Linked DNA regions of Homo sapiens. The protein of the gene in region 5 purifies or fractionates together with the protein of the main gene of each other region. This does not show direct contact. Each region holds a gene or a part of one and is shown on either strand. Other genes may lie near its edges. The genes, in order: UBLCP1, AARSD1, ITM2B, GARS1, TARS1, FARSB and NAA50.

Region 1 (3,500 bases), about 130 Mb from region 5:
CAGATCTTTAATCTTAATCTTAACCTTTAATCTTTAACCTTAAAAGAGGTTTTCATGAAGTGTTATCTTGGGTAGATTAATTTTATAAAAAAGAGGTTTTCAATAAAAGACACACAAGGACAGCCTGTGGAGTGTCTAAATCTACCTCTGGAATTAGAATTTAGGGGATGGGGACATACGTATTTTTAGGAATTCCTTCAGTGGGTCTACTGAGTACAGTCTTTTAAAAACCCTACTGTAAAGTAACATAAAGAACTAGACATTTACAATAACATCTCTCCCTGCATCAAGAGATGAATGGAGCTCAAATGTTGGTTAGGAAAACAAAGTTTCTTTTAAACAAACATGAAACTAATGATTGTATTTTTTTTTTTAAAGTTAAACGTCTCCTCCAAAATTATTCCTTGACCATCATGGGATCACCTCCTTGCAAGAACAGGTAATAACCATTCGTTTCACAAACAATTAGGTTTACATCAACCACATTTCTTCTCAAGACTCAAGAATACATTTTTGTACCTTTACCTGGTGCAGTACATATTAAGAAAAGCACTTCTCTCCAAGCCTTAAACAGAAACCATTAAGGACAACATAACCACTTTTCTTCCAAGTCAACAGTTTTTATACTTATGGCAATTCACTACCTAGATTAGTATTCTTTCCCTAAAATATCCTCATTGTAAACAAAAACTCAAATCAACAGTCTGTAAGAAAGGTTTAAAAAATGTACTTTTAAGTTTTTCTCTCTTGTCTTTTAAAACTACCAAGGACCCAGCTAGTAGAAAAGTTTAGGACTGAGAATGAAAACATCTCAGTGTCAGGACTGCCACTTCGAATGGAGACTCCATGTGCAATAGTGCCATAGTATAGAGCTATCTTTTCCATTTTCATATTGCGCCAACATGTAATCAACTATGGGTACCAGAAACTTTTAAATTTCAAATTTCACTCTTACCAATTTTATACTGTTACCAGGATGAAATGTCACATAAGACTGCATGCAGTTGCATGCTAAGATTGTCACTGACCTAGGAACCAAGTCACTAGAGTCTAACCCAAATTCTGTCATTAGCCAGTTACATATACAATCTTGGGCAAGTCAGGAACTTCTTCAACCTCAGACTGTTTCCAAAGTTAAGAAGGTAGGCAAGAGATGACTGTGGTTCCTTCTAGCTCTGGCAATGTCTAATTCTAAGATCTGTACTTGCCGTCTAGGAATTTTCAAAAACGTCTTTAGTTTCAGTTTAAAAAGAAAAAACAAAGTACCCTTACTGCCATTTCTCAAGCTAACCAGAATGTTTAAAATGCCAAGATTTGTATACCTAAAAAAATAACTAATGATTTCACTTTGGATGCTAAAAGTCAATGTTGGGAAGCCCATGTTGCTCCCACAGAGCTAATTAAAAATAAAACACTTGGGCCGGGCGCAGTGGCTCATGCCTGTAATCCCAGCACTTGTGGGAGGTCGAGGTGGGCAGATCACGAGGACAGGAGCCTGAGATCAGCCTGGTCAACATGGTGAAACCCTGTCTCTACTAAAAATACAAAAATTAGCTGGGTGTGGTGGTGCGTGCCTGTAATCCTAGCTACTCAGGAGGCTGAGGCAGGAGAATCACTTGAACCCAGGAGGTGGAGATTGCAGCGAGCCGAGATCGCACCACCACACTCTAGCCTGGGCGACAGAGTGAGATCCCGTCTCAAAAATAAATAAATAAATAAACAAACAAATACTTGGATGAACTAGCTAACTATGGAGACATCAATGCAAAAAAGACAAAGTTCAATTTCTATATGAATTATTCTTAAACTTTTCTCGCCTATGACATAAGAATACAGTACTTCCAAAAATATATGAAATTCAACAGTGCTTACTACAAAAGTTCTACCACACAGCCCAGATTACATGAGCACATAACAAGTAAAAGTATGTCTTACCTTTAGTCCATTCTGTGGGTTCATTAGAAAATTTCTCCCTATGTCATCAAACATAATGGTGTTTTTCTTGCTGTAAAACTCCGAAAACTTTCCCCATATAACACCAAGAGGCTTTACCTTAGAATAAAAGTTTACATTTAACTCAAATTTTATCAATATTTCATCCTGTCTTAAAAGCAGGAATACTGCAAACTGCCCTGCAGAACAATGCCAAAGTGTTCCTTTCCCCCTGTAAGACAGGTGTGAGCTAATCATTAAATGCAACCCACTTTAAAGCACAATGCATTTTGCAATATTAAAACTTCTGAAAGGTTTGTTCATGTCCAACTGAACTAAACCCATTATAAAACTTTCCATAATTTTAACGTGAAGATTTTGGGTAAAATAAATAAATTATTTAATTTTTTAAAAATCCAAAGTAATTGTTTAGATGTCTGCTATGCAGTCACATGACTTCCTTGGTTAACACATTCCTTCTCAGAGCTTGGGAGTCACATGGAGTCTGCTTTCAAAACTAGAACACCCTAGTCAAAAAAAAACTGTATTTGGCTTTTTCAATTAATAATTTGAATATTTTATAGAGGAAAAACTCGTTTTGTCTTTAACTCAGTGGCACAGGTGCATAATTTCTAGGGAATTTGATTGCTTAACTTCGGAAGCACCATATTTTACAAATTCTTACTCTTATTTCTGAATTCTTAAACTGAAGCTTCAAATAAATAATTTCTTATATAGTCTTACCTGTTGGTATTTGTGTAAAGTCTCTGTAAGACCACACAGGAAATAACACTGATTGTGGCTAGGTACCAGGTGAAAGATGACTTTTCATTATGTACTTTACTATTTTTTTAGTCATGCAAATGTATTACACATTCAGAAAATTTTTTAAATTTCTAGAAAATTACTTTTGCTGAAGACAGAAGTCTTACGGTATTATGAGAACAGAATGTAATAATAAATATATGAGATTAAGTGGTAAGAAATAAATAGTGATAAAAGTTGTAACTTAAAAATTTTTTTCCTCCTATAATTTAATTTGGAGAAAGCTTTTTCCTTCCTATTGTCTTGCCTATTACAAAAAATGTTAATGAAATATTTTAATTTACTAAAATTTTACTTTCCTGATTTTTTTTTGCTACTGATCTTGTTTACTACCGAAATAGAAACCGCCCCCTACTCCCCCCACGAAATGAAGACAAATATATAAGAATTAATACAATAAGCCATATTTTGTGGATTTTTAGCTAACAAAAGCCTCAAGAAATATGACAACAGAGGTCATTTTTTATGACATCCAGAATAAAAATCCTACATCCTCTTAAAAAGTGCTGTCATTTGTTAATTAGGTCAAGCACCTATGTTCCCCAAAACACAAACTACTTTGCTCTCAATTAGAAAAGTAATATTGCTAACTACAGAAAAAAAACATGAAAATACTGAAAAGCATAAAGGAAAATTTTAAATCAATAATCTAGTCAGTACCAAGGGCAACAACTCAATATTCTGATACATTGACTCCAGGCATTTTTATAAACAAGAGCAGCCTCAGAGAGTTGACAGGTTCT
Region 2 (3,500 bases), on a different chromosome or scaffold from region 5:
ATGGGGTCTCACTCTGTTGGTCCAGGCCGGAGTGCTGTGGCGTGATCTCCACTCACCACAACCTCTGCCTCCCGGGTTCAAGTGATTCTCCTGCCTCAGCCTCCTGAGTAGCTGGGACTACAGGCGCGTACTACCATGCCTAGCTAATTTTTGTACTTTTAGTAGAGAAGGGGTTTCACCATGCTGGCCAGGCTGGTTTCGAACTCCTGACCTTGTGATCCACCCGCCTCAGCCTCCCAAAGTGCTGGGATTACAGGCGTGAGCCACCGCGCCCGGCCAGTAACATATTTCTTAGGATCTACTCAACCTTGAGAATACCAGTGAGCAATCCACCTCCCACTGTACATTGCATATAGAGAAGACACTGAGCCCTAAGCCCAACACAGTTCCCCTTCCTTGTGTCCAGCTCCTAATTTCTCACCTGTGTAATATGACCACACCTCCCCAGTCTGGACTGTTCCTGAGGCTATGGGCAATGTGCACAGCCAGGTCTCTGAGCAGATTCAGGTTATTCTGAAATGGATATGGTAACTCAGTAGATAAATGGAAAGGATAACAATAGAGAGTATCAGCTTCCCTCCACCTCATTCTCCCCTCACTCCCACTTTGACAAACTACACATCTGTTTAGGCAGAAGACCAAGTCTGCAGAGCCTATCCTAGGCAGGGCCCATGCCCTCTCTACCCTCCATGGAATAAATCACCTTCTGCAGGATCTTGGTGGAGTTCTGGAGCTTTTTCACTGCTTCCACATGATCCTCTGCTCCACACCTGAAAGAGAAAGGTCAGAGGAGACCTGCGCAGCTTCCCAGTCGTTTCTGATGTTGGGGACATAAATCAATAATTTCCTTCTTGCTATGGTGCCTCCCTGCAGTCAGGGACCAGGAGATATTCTGAGGAGGTCTCTTAGGCAACTGGGAGAAAACATACAAAGGAATTAACCACTTTTCGTGGTTCTGATTTACTATCCAAAGCACTTGATCTTTTTTTTTTTTTTTTTTTTGAGACAGAGTCTTGCTCTATCGCCCAGGCTGGAGTGCAGTGGAACGATCTTGGCTCACTGCAAGCTCCACCTCCCGGGTTCACGCCATTCTCCTGCCTCAGCCTCTCGAGTAGCTGGGACTACAGGCGCCCACCACCATGCCTGGCTAAGTTCTTTTTGTATTTTTAGTAGAGACGGGGTTTCACGGTGTTAGCCAGGAAGGTCTTGATCTCCTGACCTCGTGATCCGCCCACCTCGGCCTCCCAAAGTGCTGGGATTACAGATGTGGGCCACCACGCCTGGCCGCACTTTATCATTTACGATTGCATCTTATCTCCCAGAGGTAAGAGATTATGTCGAAAATCTCAGAAATGGGAGGTAATCGAAGGTACTGAAACAGGCATACTTAAGCAGAGCAGTCAGTGCTTTTTCAGTTCCATGACTTCTCTCCATCCACTTCAGCACCCGGTTCCCAGACAGAAATATCAGGTTGGTTCTGTTCTTTTTCCCCTTCTCAGTGCCCAGAATCTTAATGACCTACATGAGGCAAGGGGGTAACACACACACACACGTGTGCACATGCATAAACCACAGCGGATCCTAGAACCTGAAGGCAGGAGAAACCTATCTGTTCCTCAGCTCTGAAACAGTGAAGGGGAGATTTCACTTAGGACTCCTCGATTATCCCCCTCTCCCACTCCCAGCCCCATGTGATCCCCTCTCCCCCAATCCCTCTTCTCAGCCACTCCACAGCCGTTCCTCACTTACCTGAAGGTCACTGAGATTGCTCACATGGGTCCCACAGCACATGTTGGAATCAACGCCCTCGATGTTAACAACCCGAATGGGCCCAGCATGATCATCAGGCAAACCCCGGCCACTCACCTGGACTCAAGGAGAGGGGAGGGACTGTCTGAATCTGATGAGGAATCATTCCGCAGAAACCATCCCTCTGGCTCTACCCTTACCTGCTCCACCTCAGGATCATCCAGGCTCAGTTCTCGGACATTCACAGGCAGCCGATCTCTGATTTTTTCATTGACGCTCTGCTCAATGGCAGCTACTTGCTCTGCAGTCATAGAGGGGGTGTCCAGCTCAATCGCACTCCGAAATCTCCCTAACTCCCTGTCAGAAGTACAGTGGCCACAGATAACATATCTTACTGAACAAGAAAAAGCTGAAAGCTTTTCCTCTAAAAACTGGAACAAGCATACCCTCTCACCACTTTTTTTTTTTTTTTTTTTTTTTTTGAGACGGAGTCTCGCTCTGTCGCCCAGGCTGGAGTGCAGTGGCGCGATCTCGGCTCACTGCAAGCTCCGCCTCCCGGGTTCACGCCATTCACCTGCCTCAGCCTCCCGAGTAGCTGGGACTACAGGCGCCCGCCACCACGCCCGGCTAATTTTTTGTATTTTTAGTAGAGACGGGGTTTCACCGTGTTAGCCAGGATGGTCTCGATCTCCTGACCTCGTGATCCGCCCGCCTCGGCCTCCCAAAGTGCTGGGATTACAAGCGTGAGCCACTGCGCCTGGCCTTTTTTTTTTTTTTTTTTAAGACAAGCTCGCTGTCACCCATGCTGCCATTTGGTGGCAATCACAGCTCACCACAGCCTTAATCTCCCCGGCTCAAGCAATTCTCCCACCTCCGCCTCCCTCCCAGTGCTGGGATGGGCCTGCCTACAGTTAGTCTTATGCCTCCCACTCACCATGATGTTGTCTTCAGCTTAAATAGATGGTCAGCAACTGCCGTGATGAGATGCTGCCCTAAGCAAAGAGAGCCAGAGACAGGAGAAAAGTGAGAAGCCTACATACTCCCACAATGATAAAATATGAGCTACAATGATAAAAGCACAGAAATTCTCCTTGTTGAAGACCTGCTAAGCACTGGGTAATACACTTTAGATACTTTATTGAAAATCACAATGAGAATTCTGCAAGAGGCCTTATGATACCATTTCACAGATGAGGAAACTGAAGCCTAGAGAGATCAAATAACTTGCCATGGCAATGTAACTTATAAGGGGCTGGACTTGAACTTAACTTCCTTTTTTTTTTTTTTTTTTTTTTTTTGAGACAGTCTCATTCTGTTGCCCAGGCTGGAGTGCAGGGGCTCACTGCAGCCTCCGCCTCCCAGGATCAAGCAATTCTCGTGCCTCAGCCTCCTGAGTTGCTGGGATTATAGACGTGCATCACCGTGCCCGGCTAATTTTTCTACTTTTAGTAGAGATGGGGTTTCACCACGTTGGCCAAGCTGGTCTTGAACTCTTGACCTCAAGTGATCCACCTGCCTTGGCCTCCCAAAATGCTGGGATTACAGGTGTGAGCCACTGTGCCCAGTGAACTTAAGTTCCAATATGCAGCATTCATCCATTCAACAAGTATTTATTGAGTACCTACCAAATGCAAGGCACAGGGCTTGACATAAGAGATACAGCAGCATCCCTGATTGACAAGAGTGATGATGAGGAGAAAGAAGAGGAAGAGGAGGAGGAAGAAAAGGAGAAAGAGGAGGAACTATCAAGG
Region 3 (3,500 bases), on a different chromosome or scaffold from region 5:
ATGAGTTGCCTCTAAAATTCCTCATGAAGGAGACAATCTTGGAACTTTGAAGAGGACGATCAGAGGATGCCTCATCAATCTTTCTAGACCATCCTGTCTGATCTTAAATTAATGCTAATGGTAATTCAGATGGTTTCCATTATTATCCATTATTAATTATCATTAAGTCAATTTTTAATGTAAAAGGAAATATTCTAACAAATCTTTAAAAAGCTATCAAGATAGCTAAGTTGAAGTTCTAATATTGATTTCCAGTGAAATGTTTGTTTACTTCCTCCTGAAAGCTCAATAAAGCGACAGTAAAGGGATAAAACAAATAAACCTTAAGCCACAAAGAATGAAAATGAATGACAGCAGACAAGTCATGTCAATAAAAATGTTGAAAGCTGAAAGCATAAAAGAAAAAAGAAAAAAAAGATATAAGGAGAAAATCACCAGCCTGTAGACAACCAAAGGGGGAAAAAAAGTCATGTACAAACAAGGAATCAGAATGGCATCACATTAGAAGATAATGGAGCAATGCCATCAAAATGCTGAGAGAAAAATGAATGCTAACCTAGAATTTTACACCCAGATAAATTATCAAATATGAGGATGGAATAACGATTCTGAGACACGTAAGATTTTTTAAAAATTTATCTTTTTCTTCAGATTTATGAAACTGTAGATCTAGCATGTGATAAAGACAAAGGCAATTCTTCCAAGATGATTATGACTCTCAGGACATTTGTATGAGTGCAACCAGTCTGGAATAGAAAACTAATGAATGATGGGCAAGAAATCATCAAAAAAAAAAGAAAGAAAGAAAGAAAGAAACTTGGTAAGTTACCTGGTGAGTTTGAAGACACAGAAAGACAATTATACTGCTGTCAGAGTCTGAGGAATGAATGAGCAGTAAGTATGTAGAAAATTAAGGAACCCTCTCTCCTGCCCCAAGAAGCATGATCAAATTCAGGGAAAATAAAAAGTTGTTATACAAGAATGGAAGTAAAATAAAAGTATACTACAATACTCAAATGTAACTAATGTTTATGTTAATTATAATAAAAAACACTAAATATCAATTTAACCAGAAATTGCTAGAACAGGAGAAGAGATCATGTGTGCAGTGTGTAAATATTCAGAAAAAGCTAAATATTCACCTTCCATGTAGCTATTATCAATAGGTATTATCTAAAACTGCAAAAAATAAAACAAATGAAAACAAACCATGAAACAGCAGTATAAGCAAATATTTAGAATAGATGTTCTGCAAATGTGGTCCAGGAACACACCCGTTCAGGGGGTCCACAAGGTCAAACTTTTTTCATAATAAAACTAAGACTGTGTTAGTTTAAATAATAAAACTGTCATTTTCACTTTCATTCTCTCGCTATGTTTATATACAATAAAAATTGTACAGTGCAATTTTCCAGAAGCTAAGCACCATATCACAACAGACTGAATGAAGAATTTGATAGGAAAATCCGGCTATCTTCTATTAAGCTATTCAATAAAGGGCACTGCCGAATGTAAAACAATGTTACTGTTAGTCTTCTTAAATCTTTTTGGTTATTTGGAAATATATATAACCTACATAAAGCAAAAGCTCTTTGGGATCCTGAACAATTTTTAAGACTATAAAGGAGTTCTCAGAGCAAAATGTTTAACAACCACTGATTTAGAGAAATAGGGAGTTAAAAGAGAAACATGGAGGGCCAGGTGCTATGGCTCAGCCTGTAATCCCAGCACTTTGAGAGGCCGAGGTGGGTGGACCACTTGAGGTCAGGAGTTCCAGACCAGCCTGGTCAACATGGTGAAACCCCGTCTTTACTAAAAATACAAAAATTAGCTGGGAGTGGTGGTGGGCACCTGTAATCCCAGCTACTCGGGAGACTGAGGCAGGAGAATCACTTGAACCTGGGAGGCGGAAGTTGCAGTGAGCCGAGATCATGCCACTGCACTCGAGCCTGGGTGACAGAGCAAGACTCTGCTGCCCGCCGCACCACGCCCTACTGGGGCAAAAAGTGAGAAACATGGAGTTAAGATCGCCATGTATGGTTGGGCAGGTTGTTTCCAGTACAAGGATGCCAGGCCAAGGGAATCAGTAGGTCTAGAAACCAACTGATGCTCTATTCTCCAAACCACCAGAGAGGGGATCTTTTTCTAAATTGCACAAAGGCAGAAGAGGGTCTAGTGGTCACCATGGTAATAAAAGACCATAAGAAGCTAATAAGTGAATATGATTGCTTTGAATTAATCTATGGGGAGAAAAATTAGAATAGTGGTTACCTCTAAGGAGAACAAATTGTAAAAGGACACAAGATAACTTTCTGAGTTGATAACAATGTTCAGCTTGATTGGGAGTTAGAGCCCAGGTATACAGACTTAAAATTATCTAACTGTACACTCATGATCTATGCATTTTACTGTATACAATGATGCTACAATTTTTTTAAAGTATGTTCCTCTGACATAGGGCAGGACTATATATTTGCATATTAAAATTTAGTATTACTTTGGTAAAACTCAAATTCTATTAACACCTATTATGTAATGAATAAATAACATTTTTAAATGAAATCGGTACAGCTACTGAATCCTAAGGGTTTTTATGTTGCAGGAATCAATCTTTACCAGAATGCCTTGCTGTGAAAAAAGTACCAACAATATTGTTACTGACATGTGAGGCAGGGATAAGCAGTAACAGTAATATAAGAAGTAATATTCCAAAACAAGAATGATGAGGAGAGAAAACTGGGACTTTAATAATAGTAGTTGATCAAGAGGTCAGGAGTTCGAGACCAACCGGGCCAACATGGTGAAACCCCGTCTCTATTAAAAATACAAAAAATTAGCCAGGCATAGTGGCAGGTGCCTGTAATCCCAGCTACTTGGGAAGCTGAGGCAGGAGAATCACTTGAACCCGGGAGGCAGAGGCTGCAGTGAGCCAAGATCACACCATTGCATTCCTGCCTGGGTGACAGGGCAAGACTGTTTCTCAACAAAAAAATAAATAAAAATAACAGTAGCTGAAATCTACTAATTTTTAACTCTGTTCCAGGCATTGTGCTATTATTGTTACAGATTATTATTTTCCCTATTTTGCTGATGAAAAAACTGAGACACAGAGAACTGAAGTAACTTACCCAAGGTATCAAAGTAAGTGATAGAGACAAAATTTAAATCTTTTGAAGAATGACTGTATAACCTGAATTCTGCTAGTGCTGCTGCTTCCTGAATAGCAGCAGCCCCTCCCCAACAATTCAGTGAGGGTACTGGGCAAAAAGGAGAAATATCATTCCTTTGATATTTTTCCCAACCATTAAAAAATATAAAAATCATTCTTACCCCATGGGCTACAGAAAAACAGCAGGCAGGCAGTATTTGAAGATATAGGCTATAATTTGCCAGTCCTGCGTTCCACTTTAAAGGAGATTATAAAATAGTGGCCCATGCCTTCAGTGTTTTGGGCTAAAATTGTTGTATAAATTAAAATAGTACTGATTTTTAGCTTGCCT
Region 4 (3,500 bases), on a different chromosome or scaffold from region 5:
TCTTATATGCCTTACCAATTGCTCCCTTACTGGGTTCAAACTGAACAACATTGACTGTTTTGTATGAAGTAGTCAAGGAATCCAAAACTACAGCACTGCCTCAGTATTTCAGAAAATGAGCCTGAGAACAATCAATCATCAACTTAAAACCATGCCAGCTCTCTATCAGTACTCCAGATCCTGTTTATGCTGATTTTAAGGCAAGATGAAACACCTGTCCACAAAATCATTCAGACAACTCTCATCCAAAATTAACACCATCAATAGAAACTTTTCCAGTTACAGTGAGAAAAAAGAGATATTATCTAATCAGCAATGACCCAACCCATAGCATAAGAACTTCTGATAAGTATTTCTAAAATGCTCAAAACAAGATCTATTTCCTGTCACTGACCTACCCCTAAGAAATCAGCTCATAACTTCACTGCCTACTAAAGAAAGAAAATTTCTATTTTGCTGATTTTCAGACCAAGTGAGCTAAATTATTATTTCAGCTACTATCAAATGGCACTCATCTTTTAATGGAAAAAGCTTTCACCAGGTACCCTTTATTTAAAGAGCACGTAGGTAGGTGCAGGTGTGAAGTGCGTTTTGGAAACAGCTGAGAAAAACTATTAACGTTCTGAAAGATATTCAGAGCATTTTTCTAAATATGCTTCTTTTAAAGGCCAAACATTGAGTGGGCACACGTCAGACTACAAGTACAGAGAATAGGAAAGGAACAAAGGGATAGGTAAAATAATAGGTTTAAACAAGCGTTACTACAGTGTCTAAAACATCTCCATTTATCCATAGAACAAGGTAAAGACTTGGACTTATTCATTAGCAAGATGTTCACATGTGAATCCTGAGTTTTTGGAGTGACCAGAAAGGATATGGGTTCTTTCAGAGGTTTCTCAGCTACAAGTGGGACTTTGGTGGCTCGTGCATGACAGGAGAGGTCATAACAGGAACGATCAGCACATCCAACAATCTCAATCCAACCCTAAAAAGATATAATCAATAAAAACATTACTTACTTATTATTACTTATATTGGGTTCATTCACAAATGCATGCAGATTATAAACCTTTCATATATTCAATGATAATTCGATGATATAATCTTCATTCAAATTTCATAAATATTTGAAATGGGAATAGCCTCATATATCAGGCAGCTAATAAGCCTATAAAATATAATTCACACTGATCTGGGTGTGATGGCTCATGCCTGTAATCCCAGGTACTTGGGACGCTGAGGTGGAAGGATCACTTGAGGCCAGGAGTTTGAGACCAATCTGGGCAACACAGTGAGACCCTATCTTAAAAAAAAAAAAAAAAAGAAAGAAAAAAATATATAATTCACACTGTACACAAAGTAGTCTTCCTTTCTGGATGGATTTATATTGTTATACTGAGTCTGTGGGGTAAACTAACATATTCTGGAATTTAATTATGGAAATTAAATGTGAACCTAGACAAAGCCTGTAAATTTGGTTCAAATTTGTGAACAGAAATCAAAATGAATTTGGCAGAAACCACTATTCTTTAGATGAAGTACCTAGTGTTCTCACAACTTGATATCAGATGGCTGACTAAACACATACTTCAGCTGGCCATAAATGTGGGCATTTGGATTCAATTCACTTTCTTCACTGAACAAAAGAAAACTCAGTATAAGAGTGGGTAAAGTTCAGGTCACACAATAAAATTATATAAGAGCATTATGATCACATTGATGCCAGGTTCCCTTTCTTATAAATACACACATAAGATACTTTTAAAAAGCAAAATTTAAATTATTTTCAAAGAACCTGCAATGAATTGAATGCTTGTGTCCTTGACAAAATTCGTATATTGAAATCCTAACTCCCAATGTGATGGTATTAGGAGGAGGTGCCTTTGGGAGGTGATTAGGTCATGAGGATGGAGCCCTAATCACTGGAATTTGGGACCCCAGAGAGCTCTCTTGCCCTCTTTCACCATGTGAGGATACAACAAGAAGTTGGCAGTATGCGACTGAGAATGGGGCCCTCACAAGGATCAGACGATGCTGGCACCCTGATCTCTCAATTCCAGCCTCCAGAACGGTGAGAAATCAATGTCCATTGTTTATAAGCCACTCTGTATGTGGTGCTTTCTTATAGAAACCCCAACTATGACAAACTCTTAAGAACCCGTTATTTCAATAAGAACAAGAGTTTGTAAAGAGCTTATTTTGGTAGATACCTAGTTAGTCCTTCTCAAGAAGATTCATTTTTTTTTTTTGCCCTTGATCCAAAGAGTTTGGGGAAATTCAACCATCAAAACTACTAAGCTTGGCCAGACACAGTGGTTCGTGTCTCTAATCCCAGCACTTTGGGAGGCTAAGGCGGGTGGATCACCTGAGGTCAGAAGTTCAAGACCAGCCTGGCTAACACGGAGAAATCCTGTCTTCATGAAAATACAAAAATTAGCTGGGTGCAGTGCCATGTATCTGTAATCCCAGCTATTTGGGAGGCCGAGGCAGGAGAATCGCTTGAACCCAGGAGGCAGAGGCTGCAGTGAGCTGAGAGTGCACCACTGCACTCCAGCCTGGGTGACAGAGTAAGACTCTGTCTCAAAAAAAAAAAAAAAAAAAGAAAAAAAGAAAAAACTACTAAGCTTTCCAAGCACATGTTATCACATGGGGTGTCTGTAATAAAGCAAGCAAATATAAAACTCATATGAGCTCAGAAACTCCAACACAAAACAACAACAAAAGGAATTAAAGAACAAAGCCTAAAAACATGTAACCTGGCAATCTGACATTCCCTATACATGTCGACTGGTTAAGTATACTTATGTTCTTAACCATATAGTTTGGTGGTTATAATTTACTGCAGATGTCAACTAACATTTATGTACTGAAAGGTAAAATTACAAAAACGTGCCTGAGAATAACAACATTGGGATAGTGGTTACTTCTCTGGATGGAAAGAGAATTGGTGTGGCATTAACTGCAACGGTAAATTTTTTTATTAAAAAAATATATAAAGTACACAAAAAGTATTAAACTCTCTAAGGGAGTTCTCCCCTCTCCTTAAGAGCCTCTGGGACTCTGGAGCTTCTTGTTTCATTTAGCCCTGTTTTCCAGTGACTTTCCATTTTCTGATCCCTAACCCTCACAATGGCACTTAGATAAGGACGAGCAGGCATCCAGTGGGGTTTATAAAGCAGTACAGCATAACTGTTAAGAGCATGAGTCTGGTGTCAGACAGCCAGGTTTATATCCCAGCCTCACCACTCACTGGCTGTGAGACTTAAGCAAATTACTTAACTGAGACAGCAAGAACAACATCTGGTTTAATCTGAAATCAGAATCAGAGCAAACTAAGAGAAGGAGCTGGGTATGAAACAAAAAGAAAAGTAATAATCTTTTCTCATACAAAAGGAAAAACATTTTATTGGTTTGATCTGAAAATAAAAAGAAGTCCCAGAAAATCTAAAAAGTGTAAAGAAATTAATGATCACCCATAATCCTAAAAATAATTACTATTA
Region 5 (3,500 bases):
CCATTTCAAAAATACACAATCATAAAGAAAAAAACTAGCTTACACAAACCTAGGAACCATTTCCAATTTCATTTTGCTTTTATCCATTTAAAGAGGCTTGGCTTTCTTACATCTCAGAACAAGCCAATTTCAAACAGTATTCAAAAGCACGCTGAAAAACACCACTTACTTTCTCAGCTTGATCCCATACTTCGATATCTCCAAGGAATTTTTCCGGGCGAGTAGAAAGGTTTAGTTTAAAAGAAAATCCAAATACGCTATATACCGTACGTAGAAAATCCAAACAACCTTTTATTTCATCTTCAATCTTCAAATTAAAAAACAAAAAAAGAAACAGTAGTTATTTTCCTTGACTTTCTTGACTCTTCTTTCTAAGTATTTTATTCCCAGGGTCTCATACCTGCTCCATGGCACAGAATATGTGAGCATCATCCTGTTGGAATCTTCGTACCCGGGTGAGTCCTGTGAGTGCTCCAGACAGCTCGTTCCTATGAAGTACCCCAAAATCAGCTAGCCGCAGAGGCAGTTCTCGCCAGGACCTTGGCCGATGATCAAACATAAGGCTGAAGAGAAAAAGAAAAGTCCACGGACACTTAAGAATAAAACTGCTTCTGTAATGCTATATTTAATTACACGAAAGGTTGTCAAAAAGCCACTGATTCTAGCTGTCCATCCAAGCAACATTTCTCAAATTCTGGGCTACATACAGCAGTAAAAGCACTTGCATGAATAAAACAGCAAATAAGTTATAACTCAATGAACCACAGTGAAGAATTAAAAAACGTATTCCAACAACTGAAGAATCTGGGAAAATTAAGAATGAACTTGGTTGGTCCCCTAGCCTATAATACAGCTTCTTCACAAAGATTCTTCTCTCACCTCCTCTGCCCTCCAGGCCTGGCTAGTAGGAGCTGCAGACACTAAGCTACCTGTATCCACAGCTCTCCTGTGTCTTCCCTTAAGCTGTTCTTCACCCAACTTTCAAAGATAGAAAGCAGAGCGGCCTCATGACAAGGAACATTTTCCAAGAATGCTGAGTCATTAGCAGGTTTTGACAGAACAGGTTTCTTTAAAACAACAACACACTAGGTAATTTGTTACACCCCCATATTTCATCTTCCTGTTTTATAGTCTGCCTTGGTCATTGCTATGATCCCAGTACCATTACTGAATGCCCACAGATCTGGAGATCTGGCTGGGCACAGTGGCTCATGCCTGTAATCCCAGCGCTTTGGGAAGCCAAGGTTGAAGGACCGCTTGAGGCCAGGAGTTTGAGACCAGGCTGAGCAACGTGGCAAGACCTCATCTCTACAGAAATAAAATTTTAAAAATTAGCTGGGCATGGTGGCATATACCTGCAGTCCCAGCTGCAGTGAGCTATAATCGCATACCTGCACTCCAGTTGGAAGACCTCTTTAAAAAAAAAAAAAAAAAAAGTGGGGATCTAATCAGGTGCAGAAGATATAATACAAAGATGTTGCGTTTAAATGCTCTTCTGATCACATAATTTGTTTTTAATGAAAATGTTGTTAAAGGAGGGAAGAACCCAGGATGAATTGTAGCATGTGAAAATCTTCAGTAGAAATTCAAAGCTGCCGAATACCAGTGTCCTGGGCAGTTCATGGGTTTCAGGGCAAACAGCTCCTTCTCCACCTCAAAGGAGAACATGTTCTCGCTGTAGTGCTGCCAGTGGCCCGAGGTCATCCAGAGTCGGCTGTTGAAGATGTTTGGGGTGACTACCTCCTGGAATCCTCTTTTCCTATATTCGCTCTGATAGAAAATAAACAGAAACATGTGTAGGCAAATAAATGCTCATACTTCAAGTGGGAGTAAAAACTTAAAGAGTGATTTTATACTCTCTCATGAAAAAGATGGACACATGCCATGATTCAGAAATCCCACTTCTAAGTATATACCAGAGAGAAAACTCTTGGCACATGTACCTAAGGAGGCTTATAAAAGTGATGCTACTGCAGCATGGCTGATAATAAGGGACAATTATACATCAGTGTCCATCAATACAGGGATGAGTGCATTGTGGTAGTTATATAACAAAATAATATGTAGCAAGTGAAAATAAACTTGATTTGCATGTCTCTAAAAATAAATCACAAGGCAGTCTGATACACAATGAGGCTTCCTATATGTAACACACAAATACATAAATAATTTAAGGGTACAAATACATGGGCTAGATATAAGTAACATGGACAAAAAGAATCCATGCCAACTTCAAAACAGTAGTTTCTTCTAGAAAACTGGTATATGATATACCAGTATATGGATATATATACCAGTATATGGAGGTATATGGATCAAAACTGGGTCCTAAAGAGAGGCTTTTTAAACAACTAATTTTTTTTTTAATATCATGAATGAAAAAATCTCAAGCAAATATAGCCCAATGTGAATATTTGTTAAATGTGGGTAGTTAAGTACAAGATATTGGATATACTATTCTCTATAAACTTATACTTGAAACATTTCATAATTTACAAAGGAAAAAAGCAATGTAAAAACCGTTTTTTCAAAGAAAATACAAATAAATGATCAAAGTCAAAGAGGGCACAGAGCTCCTATGTCAAGGACCACAGGTCCCCCTTCAAGCTCACCAGTTTCTATGTGTATATGGGCAAAATCAACTATTAGGGATGATTTATGAGGCCACAGACTTCTACTTTTACTTATCGTCTTATATATTTCTTCTCAAATACAGATTATCTTTCCTTTTAGTAGACCTTATTTAATAAAATGATCACATATCCTAAATCTAAAGAAGAAAGCAATAAATATGACTTACCCTAATGAATTCAATAAGTGCATTATAAATGTAGGCTCCTTTTGGCAGAAAAAAGCAACTTCCAGGGCTGAGTTCATGAAAGAAATATAGTTCTTGGTCCTGGGTAAAAGAAAAGCAAAAGAATGTTTATGTACGTCACGTATACGTGTGTGTATATATACATAAATTTCAGTGTTCTTGAGCTCAGAATATGGTCATGATGTCCCATATTTCAATCAGTGCCACTCCTGAATCAAAGAAACCATGTCAGTGTTTCTGATGTTATAGAATTGCAGCTGATTTACAATTTGGCAGACGTGTAACACATGCCCTGCCTGTTATATTCCTCAATCCAGTCAAGTTTCCCCAACAGTGGCAGGGAATAAGGGTCCCTTCAGTTCTTTAACTATCCACTGCAGTACCTCTCATGGTTCTTAAATTCCTTAAAGCTCCAAGATCTGGATCTTTTTTCATTTTATTTATGTATGTATTTATTTTCTTAGTAAGAGTATCAGGAAGGAGACTGGGAAAAAGACACTGATAATGAAATAGATGATGGTAAAGTTGGCTGACTTTGGGTCATGGTGAAAGAAACACACCCTCCTACCTCCTTGCCAACATCCGCCTCCCCAAGTGCCCAAAAGCCCTCAGGGAAGGGCCCATCAATCATTGCTGGCTGCCTCATAGCTGGAATGTCAGGTAGTCAGGGGTGCAAGGCAGT
Region 6 (3,500 bases), on a different chromosome or scaffold from region 5:
TCTTGTGTCAACATTACAGCTGCCTCATCTATAAAATGGTATTTCACAGCCATTATGGCATGGTACTATTGGAAAGATTTAAATGCTAATGCATAAAATGGACCTGGCATAGTACCCTGAGACACAGTGAGTCTACAATAATTAATAGTTTATTAGCAATTAATAAAATAAGTTCTCTTCCTTATTTTAATATTATATCCTACTGTTTAGCTTTTCAGGGTTCTCACATTACCAAAAATTGAACACAAAACATCATTAGCAGTATATTCTAGCGAAAACTGGTCTTAAGATTCCTGATTCAGACACTAAATTTCAATTTAACATCTATGTACTGAGTACCCACCTTATACCAGGCACTGTACTAGGTACCAGGGTTACAAAGATAAATAAAACACAATTCCTGCCTTAACTACTTCCTCATCTAGTAAAGAAGCCAGATGTGTAAATAAATATGACTGTGTTAAGTACAAGGTACAGGGCTGGCACAAAAGAAGTAATCAGTTTCTCTTATGGTCAGCTAAACCTTCACAGAAAGGATGAGTTCGTTAGGCAGAGATTGTGGGGCGTGAAACAGCATGGCAAATTTGGAAACTCTTAAGTAGTTCAACATGGATGAAACATAAAGTTCATATCAGAAGATATGATGGAACAAGGAGAAAGGGGTCAACTAACAATTTGCCCTCTTTCTTACAGGCAGGCAATGGAGAATTATACTGAAGGGATTCTTCGGCTGGGCAAAAACATGATTAGATCTGCATTCTAAAGACTGCTCGCAGAGTAGAGGATGGATTGGAGCAGGGAGTCTACTGCAATAGTACAGATGCGATAGTGAAGACTTCATTTAAAGCAGCACCAGCAAGAATGAGGAAGAAGGGATTAATATGAAAAACGTTAAAGAGGTGGAATGTATAAGGCTCGATGGCCGAATGATGGGAGGTAGGAATAGGGAGTGTGTAGAAGGAGTCTAAGATGACTCCCCGATCTCTGGTTTGGGGGAAAAAATGGGTGGGGATATCATTAACTAGGGCAGGTAGTAATAGGTACCCAGCCTCCAAGACGGCCTGTTCCATGATCCCTGCCTCCTTGTATTCATGCTCCTGTGTGAACTGAGGTCTGCAGCAATCACCTGAGTGAGTCTGGAAGCAGATTCTCCAGCCCAGCCAAGCCTTGAAATGACAGCAACCCCAGCTGACAGCTAGACTGCAACATGGTGAGACCCAAAGCCAGAACCACCTTCCTAAGCTACTCCCCGATTCCTGTCTCTCAGAAATTTTGTAAAATAATAAAGGCTTGTTTTACACTCCTAAGTACCAGAGTAATTTGTTACGTAGCAACAGACTACTAATACTTTGGAATAATTTGTTACATAGCAATAGATTACTAATACAGACTTTAGTCCCTGGAAGTGGTGTACTGCTGTAACAAAAATGAAAAACATGGGAATGGCTTTGGAACCAAGCAGTGGGCTTTGAGGCGTGTAAATGAAAACCTCAAGAAAGAAGCCTCATAGTCTTTGGTAAGGATGCAGGTGAGGACATGGAGGAAAGTGAGGTAATGTTATCAGAAAGCAGAAGAAGAGGAATCCTGGTTAAGAAGAGGCGGAAGGCTTAGCAACACCATTCCTTGCAGTAATGTGGACTGTAAAAAATCAATGGGGTGATGTAACTAAGATTTCCAACCAGTGTTCACAGTGCCACCTGGGTTTTTCTTGTGCTTATGTGAAAAAAAGAGATAAGCTAAAGGAAAGGCTGTTAAACAAAAATGAGCCAGGATGTTGGGGATTTAAAAAATTCTCATCTTCTCCAGATGTGAAACAATGCTAAAATTAAGAAATAACTTCTGAGCAAAGACCAAATCCAAGGCACTGCCAGGAAAACATGGTCCAAAGATAAAATCAAGGATATGACCATAAAATCTTAAGACCCAGAAAGATCAAAGGCACTAATCATTCCAACAAAGGGTGCTATTAAAAATTATAAAGAATGCACCTCATAAATCCAATTAATCACACAATAGGGCTTAATTAAGAGCACTGTTATCAGCAGAAACTCAATATATTTCAGAGATGTGTAGGTGGTGTGGCTTTTGACTAATAAAATGGAAGCCAGTAACATGCACCAAAGACCTTCCAAGTTTTTAGAAGAAATACATATGCAGAAGCATTGCCAGCTAGAATTGAAAGGGATAGAAATAGGATAAAATAAAGTCTTTGAACTCTCAAAATTCTATTAGCAGTAAGTAGACTGAGAAAACCAACCAGCTGTAAAGCACATGCTTTCTAGGGATCACTCAGAGGGGTGGAAACCAAGAGCCTAGAGGGCAGGGCAGACAGCCATGGAGAATTATTCCAGGCCTTCAGACCTAATCAAGAACATCCAACATTTGCCACTTGATTCCAGAATTGCCATGGACCAATGACTCCTTTGTGTCTCCCATTTCCGCCCCTTTGAAGTGGAAGGGCTACAGGAGTTATCCTATGCCCATCCCACCACTGTATGTTAGGTATATGTGGGGCAGATAAATGGTCTCTCGAGTCTCTCAGGCCAACAGTGTACTAAAGAAGCTATACTGAAGGAACTACACCCAAGGAGCCACATCCACATCTGGTCCTGATTTAGATGATGAGATTCTAGATTCTGAGCTGCTGCTGTAATGGGATGACACTTCTGAGGGCCTTGGGAGGGGGTGAGTATATTTTGCATATGGGAGGAACTGAATCAGTGGAGGTTAGAGGGGAAACGGTGGTAGTCAGCCTCCAAGATGGGCTCCAATAATACCGGCCTCCTGGTATTCACACCCTTGTACTGTTCCCTTCCACATTGTGCTAGGATTGGTCTGTGATCAAGAGAATATGAGAAGGGCTAGTGTATCACTTCTGAGCTGTTATTGAAAACAGGCGTCTATCCTCGGCACTCTCTTACTTACCTACTCTCTCGGACCTCTCCATCTGGGGCAAACAAGCTAACATGTGCTAAGTAGTCCTATGGAGAGGATAAGGTGGGAGGAACTAAAGCCTATGGCCAAAAATCAGCAAGGAACTGAGGTTTGCCAACAACCACTTGAATGAACCTGAAAGCAGTTTCTCCAGACCCAGTTAGGCCTTGAGATGACTACGGATCTGGCAAACACCTTGACTGCAATCTGGTAACAGATCCAGAGCAAAAACCACCCAGCTAAGCCAGTCCCCAATTCCTGACCCTCAGAAACTATATAACAAATGATAGCTGCTTTAAGATGCTAAACTTTGGGATAATTTAGTATGCAGTAATAGATAACTAAGTGGTACAGAACTATTAAAATACGCTGAATCCTAATTATCATATGTTTTATTCCTTTCAGCTGTTATTTCATGGGTTTCTATACAAAGAAAAATCAACAATAAAATCGTGATTACTAATTTCCTCTAACGAAATGACACATCAAGTAACCACACCTTAGGGGTGTATATGATATACACAGAAGGTTCTGCCACTACTGCCAGCTATTACACCACGCCAGAA
Region 7 (3,500 bases), on a different chromosome or scaffold from region 5:
ACAAGTTGAAACATTTAGAAATATCTACCATCTGGGATGGGAAGTAGATTCTAAGGGAAAAGATCCTGTTTTATACAACTTTGGCTTTTTTATGGGTTTAGCACAGGACCGTCCAACAGATATACAAGTGACATACAAAATTTTAAAATGTTTAATATCTTGGGAAGACTTCCTTGATATAACAAAAAAAAGTTTAGTATTCACATTTACAAGGGGAAGAAATCATTTCAACATGTAATCAAAATAAAACTTATTTTACCTTAAAAACTTTTTCATTCAAGTTTAGTATCCACATTTACAAGAGGGAGAAATCATTTAAACATGTAGTCAAAATAAAACTTATTTTCCCTTAGAAGTTTTTTTTCATTCAAGTTTAGCATCCACATTTACAAGGGGAAGAAATCATTTCAACATGTAGTCAAAATAAAACTTATTTTACCTTAAAAATTTTTTTTATTCCAAGTCTTTAAAATCCAGTTTACTACACTTACAGCATGGCCCAATTCAACTACTCATTTTCCTTAGAAATATTTGATCTGTATTTACATTTCACAAAATCTGCAGTAGATCCACATATCTAAGTTGTTTCAAACATAAAAACGGACCAATAACTGTGAGTTTTTTCTTTTTGAGACAGGGTCTCCCTCTGTCACCCAGGCTAGAGTGCAGTGACATTATCATGCCTCGATGCAGTGCAGCTTCAACCTCCTAAGCTCAAGTGATTTTCCCAACTTGACTTCCCAAGTAGCTGGGACTACAGGCACACACCACCATACCCCAGCTAATTATGATTACTATTTTTTTGTAGAGATGAGGTCTCACTATGTTATAGCCCAGGCTGGTCTTGAACTCCTGGGCTCAAGTGATCCTCCTGCTTTGGCTTCCCAAAGTGTCGGGATTACGAGTGTGAGCCACAGTACCCAGCTGAGAATCCGAGCTTTCACACTTTAAAATTTAAAATTTAGTTCTGTCATACAAGGCACATTTTTTCTTTTTTTTTTTTTAAAGGTCACTTTTAATTGAGACCCAATGACAAAAGGTGGACAATAATCAATTTGGTAAAACAAATTAACAGTACCCTTTAAAGCTTCTGTTTCTATGTTTACTAATGGCTTCCCCACATAGGCAATATCATCTAGACTATGCTAGAGTTTTCAATGACTCCATCATAAGGACTAGCGATGGTAACAGAAGCTTTATCACTTTGAACTTTACCGATGTTATCAAACTGAGACACTGTATCTCCTTCTTTTACATAACATTAACAGTTACTTTTCTAATCCCTTCTTCAGTGTCTGAGAATCTGAACTGAACAAGCTGTCCACATACAGCATTAATTGTTTTCAGAAAGTTATGTGGATGACTATACTTGAATGAAGGATAATCAAAGAAACACACATAATTTGGCTTCAAAACATGAACATTACTACATGTTGGAAAACAGTGAAACAAATCAGCTGCCCAGCATTCCTGCTCCAGGTCCTCAGTACACAGACTGCAGACATCTTACCCGGGAAATGGCAACTGTGCCACAGACCACAAGGTACATTTCAACTGCTCAATCGCCAACTGTAGCTAGTCACGACTGTACTAGACAGAACAATAAAATTGTGCCATTAAGTTAGGCATTGAATAGACTTAAATATAGCTCTCACGTTCACGATGGGAAGAATGTGTCTACTGGTTACTACTGGTATTCTATTGGTTACTGCAGGCTGCATTTAAAAAAAGATGAAGGCCAATCATTTGAATAATTGAGAAAGAGTATCGCTTCAGATATCACACAGCTGAAAGCCATAAGCAATACCTGGAAGAAAAAATTAGGAGTCCCAGTAACACTTCCCACTCTACTGATCACATGTGCAATAATATTCACACAACAGAAGTAAGGATCTTTGAAATTATGATAAACAGGGAATATATCTTGATTCAATAAGATGAGTGCTTGGACTACTAAGTGACTTTAAAAAATCTTTTCCAACTCAGAAAGTATTGATTATTCTTTGTTTAGAGCTTTCCTAAGAGTTGTCTGCAATTTCAGGAAGAAATTACACCACTAATGGCAACACAACATGAGTCAACAATGCACACAACTGTATAGGCAGCAGACATACTTTCTAAATTACACGATGATTCTATTTACAGATAGATGCAAACACTTGATCTTATGCTTTATGGCATAGTTGTGCCACATCATTAAATACTGAAATAAATTTTATTATAAATTACTTCCCTTTTATTTTTCTTTTATATTAGAGAGAACAGTACATTGATTTTTTAAAAAAACTTATGGTGTAAGGTTATATTTTATATGAATTCATCTCAACACAGCAAGGGCACATTACAAAGTATTTGTTAAAATTCACTATCTCAATCAACAAACCACAAATTGTTTCACAGAAGGAAGAAGTATAAACTGTAGGTTTATAAAAGGTGTCAAATGCTACGTCAGCCTGACTAGCTTTTGGTTTTGCTGAAAAACAAAACAGCAATAAACCTTTAAAAAAAGTTTTGTTTTGTTTTGTTTTTTAAGACCAGTTTTCGCTCTGTTGCCCAGGCTGAAATATAGTGACAAGATCATGGCTCTCTGCAGCCTTGAACTCCTGGGCTCAAGTGATCCTCCTGCCTCAGCCTCCCAAGTAGCTGGAACTACAGACTTGCACCAGCATGCCTGGCTTTTTTTTTTTTTTTTTTGAGACAGAGTCTCACTCTGTCGCCCAGGCAGGAATGCAGTGGCACGATCTCAGCTCACTACAACCTCCACCTGCCAGGTTCAGGTGATTCTCCTGGCTGCTTTATTGTTTGTAGAGACAAGGTCTCACTATGCTGAGATGCAAAAAGCATTCCTTTTGCCCCTTCCCAGTCCATATGCTGTCAGAGGTAACCACTGTTCGGAGTTTTTAAAGTTTTGTTTCTGACTGCAGAATCTTACATTTTAATTTTATTTGGTAAAATGGCTCCCTTTACTATTCCAATTAGTAGTCAACATTGTTCCATATTTATATTACTGCTACCTACTTTCCCATCTTAGTCACGTATTCACATTTTGTTAAAGACATTTTTTATTAGAACTAATTTGCACCTCTTTACTACAATTGAAGGCTAAATGATTTGGTTTTATTATACTTTCCATTACACTGCCTAATTACATTGCCACCTCAGTCATGGTTATCTGTGGCATACCTTCTTGCTTGAAATCGCCTTCCCTAGAGAAGAACAGATAAAAATATCACCCACAAATTCAAACTACAATGTCCCTGGTTCATAAAAACAGCCAACCTCAAAAGTAAGCAACATTTCCTAGTATATCTCAAACTTCTACATGTGCATATAAATTACATTCAGTAGTTAATAACCGGAAATTTATCTTCTATGGAGGAAAGACATGCCAATACAATGGAAAGTCCTACTGCTACTACTAATAAAAATACTCATGGTAAAAATATGAAGAAAAACCAGCTAAGTTTTAAGTTTCAATATGATAGGCAACATAGGCAACA

What was found.
Region 1: the proteins of TARS1 (region 5) and UBLCP1 fractionate together in Homo sapiens (co-fractionation; one large-scale study listed by BioGRID). This does not show direct contact.
Region 2: the proteins of TARS1 (region 5) and AARSD1 fractionate together in Homo sapiens (co-fractionation; one large-scale study listed by BioGRID). This does not show direct contact.
Region 3: the proteins of TARS1 (region 5) and ITM2B purify together in Homo sapiens (co-immunoprecipitation; one large-scale study listed by IntAct). This does not show direct contact.
Region 4: the proteins of TARS1 (region 5) and GARS1 fractionate together in Homo sapiens (co-fractionation; one large-scale study listed by BioGRID). This does not show direct contact.
Region 6: the proteins of TARS1 (region 5) and FARSB fractionate together in Homo sapiens (co-fractionation; one large-scale study listed by BioGRID). This does not show direct contact.
Region 7: the proteins of TARS1 (region 5) and NAA50 fractionate together in Homo sapiens (co-fractionation; one large-scale study listed by BioGRID). This does not show direct contact.

The regions. Positions count from the first base shown.
Region 1 is NC_000005.10:159,276,790-159,280,289, reverse strand, and holds part of UBLCP1 (ubiquitin-like domain-containing CTD phosphatase 1), read right to left. Parts: intron 2,053-3,500; coding exon 1,936-2,052; intron 1-1,935. UniProt on the Homo sapiens protein: Dephosphorylates 26S nuclear proteasomes, thereby decreasing their proteolytic activity. Recruited to the 19S regulatory particle of the 26S proteasome through its interaction with 19S component PSMD2/RPN1.
Region 2 is NC_000017.11:42,954,455-42,957,954, forward strand, and holds part of AARSD1 (alanyl-tRNA editing protein Aarsd1), read right to left. Parts: intron 2,742-3,500; coding exon 2,684-2,741; intron 2,107-2,683; coding exon 1,950-2,106; intron 1,867-1,949; coding exon 1,750-1,866; intron 1,519-1,749; coding exon 1,388-1,518; intron 771-1,387; coding exon 704-770; intron 514-703; coding exon 422-513; intron 1-421. Other genes in the region: PTGES3L-AARSD1 protein, read right to left, coding at 422-513, 704-770, 1,388-1,518, 1,750-1,866, 1,950-2,106, 2,684-2,741. UniProt on the Homo sapiens protein: Functions in trans to edit the amino acid moiety from incorrectly charged tRNA(Ala).
Region 3 is NC_000013.11:48,239,706-48,243,205, reverse strand, and holds part of ITM2B (integral membrane protein 2B), read right to left. Parts: intron 1-3,500. UniProt on the Homo sapiens protein: Plays a regulatory role in the processing of the amyloid-beta A4 precursor protein (APP) and acts as an inhibitor of the amyloid-beta peptide aggregation and fibrils deposition. Plays a role in the induction of neurite outgrowth.
Region 4 is NC_000007.14:30,618,878-30,622,377, reverse strand, and holds part of GARS1 (glycine--tRNA ligase isoform 1 precursor), read right to left. Parts: intron 986-3,500; coding exon 878-985; intron 62-877; coding exon 1-61. UniProt on the Homo sapiens protein: Catalyzes the ATP-dependent ligation of glycine to the 3'-end of its cognate tRNA, via the formation of an aminoacyl-adenylate intermediate (Gly-AMP).
Region 5 is NC_000005.10:33,457,965-33,461,464, reverse strand, and holds part of TARS1 (threonine--tRNA ligase 1, cytoplasmic), read right to left. Parts: intron 2,900-3,500; coding exon 2,801-2,899; intron 1,771-2,800; coding exon 1,604-1,770; intron 564-1,603; coding exon 401-563; intron 308-400; coding exon 170-307; intron 1-169. UniProt on the Homo sapiens protein: Catalyzes the attachment of threonine to tRNA(Thr) in a two-step reaction: threonine is first activated by ATP to form Thr-AMP and then transferred to the acceptor end of tRNA(Thr).
Region 6 is NC_000002.12:222,649,593-222,653,092, forward strand, and holds part of FARSB (phenylalanine--tRNA ligase beta subunit), read right to left. Parts: intron 1,308-3,500; exon of another isoform or gene 694-1,307; intron 1-693.
Region 7 is NC_000003.12:113,739,750-113,743,249, forward strand, and holds part of NAA50 (N-alpha-acetyltransferase 50), read right to left. Parts: intron 1-3,500. UniProt on the Homo sapiens protein: N-alpha-acetyltransferase that acetylates the N-terminus of proteins that retain their initiating methionine. Has a broad substrate specificity: able to acetylate the initiator methionine of most peptides, except for those with a proline in second position.